Linked DNA regions of Homo sapiens: region 2 is linked to region 1. The links come from fine-mapping of genetic effects on gene expression. A gene starts in region 1. The other region holds a variant in brackets. All regions are shown on one strand. Distances are from middle to middle. Region 1 holds the start of C10orf95-AS1 (C10orf95 antisense RNA 1). Region 2 overlaps C10orf95-AS1 (C10orf95 antisense RNA 1).

Region 1 (2,904 bases):
GCCGCCGCCCAAACAGGGCGTCTGGCCGCCGCCGCCGCAGCTGCTCACCTGCACCTACCTGGCCGCCCCTCTGCTGCTACCCCCAGTCCAGGCCCACAGCTTCCGCAGCCGGCCCGGGAGCCTGCATGCGGGCGAGTGGGCGGCCCCACGGGAATACCACCGCTTCTACGGCCCCGCCGCGCCACCCGAGGCCGCGCCGCCCTGGTGGGCCTGCCCTCCGGCCTACGCCACGACCCTGCGCCGGCCCTGCGCCGCCGCCGGCATCTCGGGACTGTCGCTGCAGGCGCCCGCGGCGGTGGCCGAGAGCTGGGCGCCGTGGCCGGAGGGCGGGAGCCTGCAAACCGAGCTGCGCTGGGGCCGCGTGGAGCGCGCGCGGGGCCCCCCTCTGCAGCTACCGGACTTCGTGCGCCGGGAGCTGCGGCGCGCGTACGGCACCTACCCCCGCGCCGACGTGCGCGTCACCCAGCGCCGCGGCCAGTTCCTGCTGCAGGCGACGCCGCGCGTGCTCGAGCCCGACCACCGCGTGGAGTGGCGCGTGCGGCGCCGGCCCGACAGCGGCGACAGCAGCCCAGCCCGGGAAGCCGCGGAGCGCGGCCGCCCCAGGAAGAGCAAGGGCCTGAGCTGAAGCCGCCGCAAGGCCTAGGGGCGGGCCCGCGTGCACGCGCTTGGCTCTTTCCTGTGTGTGCCGCCGCCGACAGGCAGAAGTGAGCCCTCACCTGTGCGCGGGAGGCGGACGCGCTGCTCACCTGTCTTTTTGGCTTCTCCCATGACTGCCGGCCAGTTTCCTGCACTTGTTTCTCTCGCTTTATTGCTGGACGGTGGGAGAAGGGCAAGTGCAAGACGGAATCGAGGGCACCTCTGGGTGTTCTGTACCTCTTTTCTTCTTGCACCTTGGGAAGTGGAGGACGTGGGATGGAAGAAGGGCCTGGACCTCCCTCCTTCCTCCTCCCCACCTTCTCCTAAGGAGCTTGCCCTGCAGTAAGCCCCAACTTTCCCTTCCTCTTTTCCCTCTATCAGAGTCGTCGCCCACCCCCCTTTCCCACCGCTCCCCTACCCCCGCCTTCCTGCCAAGCCGAGGGCGACGGTGATCCCCAGCTTAGTAAGAAAAGTAAATAGGCCGGGCGCGGTAGCTCACGCCTGGAATCCCAGCACTGTGGGAGGCCGAGGCGGGCGGATCGCTTGAGCCCAGGAGACCAGGTTGGAGACCAGCCTAGGCAACATGGCGAAACCCTGTCTCTACAAAAAAAAAAAAAAAAAAAAATAGCCGGGTGTGCTGATACACTACTGTAGTCCCACCTACTCGGGAGGCGGAGATGGGAGGATCACCTGAGCCCGAGAGGGCGGGGCTGCAAGGAGCCGCGAACGCACCACTGCACTCCAGCCTGGGTGACTGAAACCCTGTCTCAAAAACAAAAACAAACAAAAAAAAAAACAATAAATAAATGAGCGAAGTCAAGTATACACTGCGAGATCATTGTTATGTTTTGGGGTGGTGTTTCTCCATCTGTTTATCTGTTTAATGGGAGTCTTACCGCCCACCCTGGGGTACAGGAAGGTAGGGTGGAGGGGCGTGAAGTTGAACTGGCCCTCTGGAGAAAGCATGTGTCTGATCGCTGGGCCCAGCTGCCCTCTTCACCATCTCCCTCCAAGTGTGCAGGCCAGCACCTTCTAACTCTCCTTGGTCCTTTGGCCCACCACCCTCCGAGATGCTGAGGGCATAAGCTCTATTTTTGAAGTGTGGAAGGCTTCACTAGGAGAGGGATGTCTGAGACCTGAGTTTAGGGCTGGCTCTGACATTTTCTACCTGTGTAACTTAAGGCTTTCTGACTCTCAGTTTCTTCATCAGTAAAAGAGGCGTAAAAGTAACCCAGCCTAATTGGAAGTTAAGATGAATGTCTCGGCCCGGCCTAATTGGAAGTTAAGATGAATGTCTCCGCCCGGCGCGGTGGCTCATGCCTGTAATCCCAGCACTTTGGGAGGCCAAGGTGGGCGGATCACGAGGTCAGGAGATCCAGACCATCCTGGATAACACGGTGAAACCCCGTCTCTACTAAAAATACAAAGAATTAGCCGGGCGAGGTGGTGGGCGCCTGTAGTCCCAGCTACTCGGGAGGCTGAGGCAGGAGAATGGCGTGAACCCGGGAGGCGGAGTTTGCAGTGAGCCGAGATGGCCCCACTGCACTCCAGCCTGGGCGACAGAGCGAGACTCCGTCTCAAAAAAAAAAAAAAAAAAAAAAGATGAATGTATCTTCTTGTCTCCCAATTCTTGCTAATAATCGTTAATTCTTAATAGGCTGAGGTTTGCAATATTCTAGGAGTTTTCTGGAATGTTAGGCCACATAGCCAATTTTAACTAGGATCTAGCCAGATTTGAGGCCCAGCTGTAGAAATTTCTTTTACTGAACTTCCATTTGTAACTGACCAATAGTTACCTGGGTATACACAGGTGAGTTATTGAAGCTGTAGGCCAGCTGATTGGGCACTGCTGTATTTGTGAGCTTCTTGGAGAAGTTGTCTCAAACCTCAGCCCTTGGAAAAGGTGTTTCTCCTGATCAGTGGTTTGCTTTTGTCTTTTAAGCGCTACGAATCTCATTACTGATCATATTTTTCTTTTGGTCCTGGTTTCCAAGGAGCTCAGAGCCAAATTTGCTTTGTGTCTTTTTTTTTTTTTTTTTTTGAAACAGAGTCTCACTCTGTTGTCCAGGCTGCAGTGTAGTGGCATGATCTCAGCTCACTGCAGCTGCAACCTCCACCTCCTGGTTCAAGCGCTTCTCCTGCCTCAGCCTTCCAAGTAGCTGGGATTATAGGTGTGTGCCACTACGCCCAGCTAATTTTTGTATTTTTAGTAGAGATGGGGTTTTCCCATGATGGCCAGGCTGGTGTCAAACTCCTGGCCTCAAGTGA
Region 2 (2,904 bases), 8.1 kb before region 1:
CCCATCTCTACTAAAATACTAAAATTAGCTGGGCGTGGTAGCGTGTGCCTGTAATCCCAGCTACTCAGGAGGCTGAGGGAGGAGAACTGCTTGATCCAGGGAATCGGAATTTGCAGTGAGCCAAGATTGCACCACTGCACTCCAGCCTAGCGACAGAGTGAGACTCTGGCTAAAAAAAAAAAAAAAAGAAAAACAGAAAAAAGAAAAAAAGAAAAGACCTTTGGTCTCTCACGTTGCACTTAATGCCCCACAGTTACACTCTGAGGCCCCTCAACCCTCTGATTATATAGACAACGTAGCCAGTTACCTTTTATGTCAGCATCAGGGCAGGGCCTTGTGATTCTGTCTGATTTCTCTTTGTGGTTGCCAGTCACAGAGCTAACTGGGAGGGGAAATGCAATGAACTAGAGGCCATATCACCTCCCTAACTCATTGAGCCATACCGGAGTCCCTGGACCATGGGACAGATAGATTGTGCACTCTCTGTCTTTGAAATTCTCTCCTCCCTTTACTTCCCACCTCTCTGATCTAGTTTCTGCCATGTTCTCTTCCTACCTAATAATTCCTCCTCAGTCCCCTTCACTGCGGCACTTTCTCCCAGGGCCTCTAAAGGAAAAGGGAGGGTGTCCCAAGTTTCCATCTTGAATACTCATATACTCACTCAAACTTTTAATCCATGCCAGGCCACAGGCTGTGAGGTAAAGGGGACTTCAAAAACAAGATTGCTGGCCAGGTGCGGTGGCTCACGCCTGTAATCCCAGAACTTTGGGAGGCCGAGGTGGGCGGATCACCTGAGGTAAGGAGTTTGAAACCAGTCTGGCCAATATGGTGAAACCCCATCTCTACTAAAAAACACACAAAAAATTAGCCAGGCCCGGTGATGGATGCCTGTAATCCCAGCTACTTAGGAGGCTGAGGCAGGAGAATCGCTTGAACCCGGGAGGCGGAGGTTGCAGTGAGCCAAGATCGCGCCACTGCACTCCAGCCTGTTGACAGAGCAAGACTCTGTCTCAAAAAATAAAAAAAACAAGATAGCTACCTGCAAGAGGCGTTGAGTGGGGTCCAAACAAGCTGGCAGCCAAGATGTCAATAGTGTGATAGGGACCAGATGGAGACAAGCCCAGGGTGGCAGCTGTTACGGTAATTTCACCTAGTACCTTTTCCTTCATGACTACTTCCACACCTCCCATGTCCAACCTGAAGAGAATATCCAGAATGGCCCATCCGAATTCACCATTCCTTAAACTTCCAATCTCCCTCCAGCATTTTCTACCTCCAGGACTGCCTTAACTGTCCATTGAGGTGGCCAAGGCGGAAACATGTGCATCCACCCTCCATCCTACGCACTTC[A/G]TCAAAACCACCATCTTGGATCAAGTCCAGGTGAATCCTACTCCCATCTGTCTTTTCCATCCCTTGCTCCTGTTTGGTTCTCAGCTTTCATAAGCTAACACGAGAACCTCCTCCATGACTAGCTTCCACCCCCACGCTCTCTAATCTGTCCTCCATTTTGCCCTCAAGTGAGTTTCCGATCGCAAGCTTCCCTGAGCAAAAGCTTCTCAGGTTGCTATATACTGAAAATTTTCATGGCCAGATGCAGTGGCTCACATCTGTAATCCTAGCACCTTGGGAGTCTGAGGCATGAGGATCGCTTGAGCCCAGGAGGTGGAGACCAGCCTGGGCAACATAGTGAGACTCCATCTCTATAAAAAATTTCAAAAAATAAAAAAATCAGGCCGGGTGCAGTGGCTCACAACTGTAATCCCAGCACTTTAGGAGGCCAAGGTGGACGGATCACAAGGTCAGGATATCGAGACCATCCTGGCCAACATGGTGAAATCCCGTCTCTACTAAAATACAAAAAATTAGCCGAGCACGGTGGCACACGCCTATAGTCCCAGCAACTCGGGAGGCTGAGGCAGGGGAATCGCTTGAACCCGGGGGGTTGCAGTGAGCCGAGATCGCGCCACTGCACTCCAGCCTGGGCAACAGAGTGAGACTCTGTCTCAAAAAGTAGTAATAAAATAAAAAATTTTTAAAAATTATGTGGAATGTGGTGAGGCACACCTGTAGTTCCAACTACTCAGGAGGCTAAGGTGGGAGGATTGCTTGAGCCCAGCTATGACCACACCACTGCTCTCCAGCCTGGGTGAAAGAGACTCGTCTAAAAAAAAATTTTTTTTCATAATTCATAACAAAGTGCTGGCGGGGGGGGGGACGGTTAGGAAATATCCTGGGGTGTATCATTGGTGGAAGCAATAGACCATTTAAACTAGCTTAAATAAAGAAGGAATTTACTGGCCTGTGTAAGTTAAGTCCAGGACCCTTTCTGATTTCTGTCCTGGGAAAAGCAGAAAATCCCCTCCACCCAACAAGAAAATAAAGTCCTAGGCTTGACTTGCATTGGCCCATATCATGTCAAGGGCTAGCCCAAGTCAATCACTATGGCCAGAGGGATGGCTGTGCTGAAAGGCTTAGCCCTAAATCACCCAAACCTAAGGATACAGTAGATTCAACTCCACCAGAACTACTTTCCTGAGAATAGATAAGGTGTGGGACTTCAAAATACTGGGGACTGGCACTGGAATCAGGGTGAACAAATACTGAGAAACTCACAGCTTGGCCATTATTTTTCTCATTTTGCCTGAAAATTTCCTTCCCAGGCTCCACTTGAGCTTCGTCTTGCTTGCTCCCCACTCTCCACCCAGAAGAGATGGAAAACCTGGCCAGTGCCATGGGTCCACTACTGAACTCCAGGCTGGGGTGTGGTCAGTCCATGGATAGCCGTGAATACTCCCAGGTGCTGGGATTTTAGGACAGGGACGAAGTTATAAACAGGAGCAGGGAGGTGTATTAGTTTCCTACTGATGTTGTAACAAATCACCACAAACTTGGTGGCTGAAAACA

What was found. PIP is the estimated chance that this variant, and not a neighbour inherited with it, causes the effect.
Region 2: its variant is fine-mapped to the expression of C10orf95-AS1 in caudate (GTEx, PIP above 0.99). The same link has a PIP of 0.9 or more in hypothalamus.

Annotation. Positions count from the first base shown.
Region 1 is chr10:102,448,173-102,451,076 of GRCh38, reverse strand. It overlaps C10orf95-AS1 (C10orf95 antisense RNA 1), which reads right to left and starts at 1,260. Exons shown (of 3, transcript NR_038938.1): 1 at 1,055-1,260; 2 at 747-890. It overlaps C10orf95 (chromosome 10 open reading frame 95), which reads left to right. Exons shown (of 2, transcript NM_001363580.1): 2 at 1-1,240. The coding sequence ends at 625. RefSeq lists silencers at 90-579, 620-699.
Region 2 is chr10:102,456,282-102,459,185 of GRCh38, reverse strand. C10orf95-AS1 (C10orf95 antisense RNA 1) reads right to left here. Exons shown (of 3, transcript NR_038938.1): 3 at 2,893-2,904. Among named protein-coding and RNA genes, the nearest start is that of SLC68A1, 3.7 kb to the left of the region's middle. RefSeq lists enhancers at 1,862-2,450, 2,451-2,904. The variant A/G (reference allele first, on the strand shown) is at 1,351.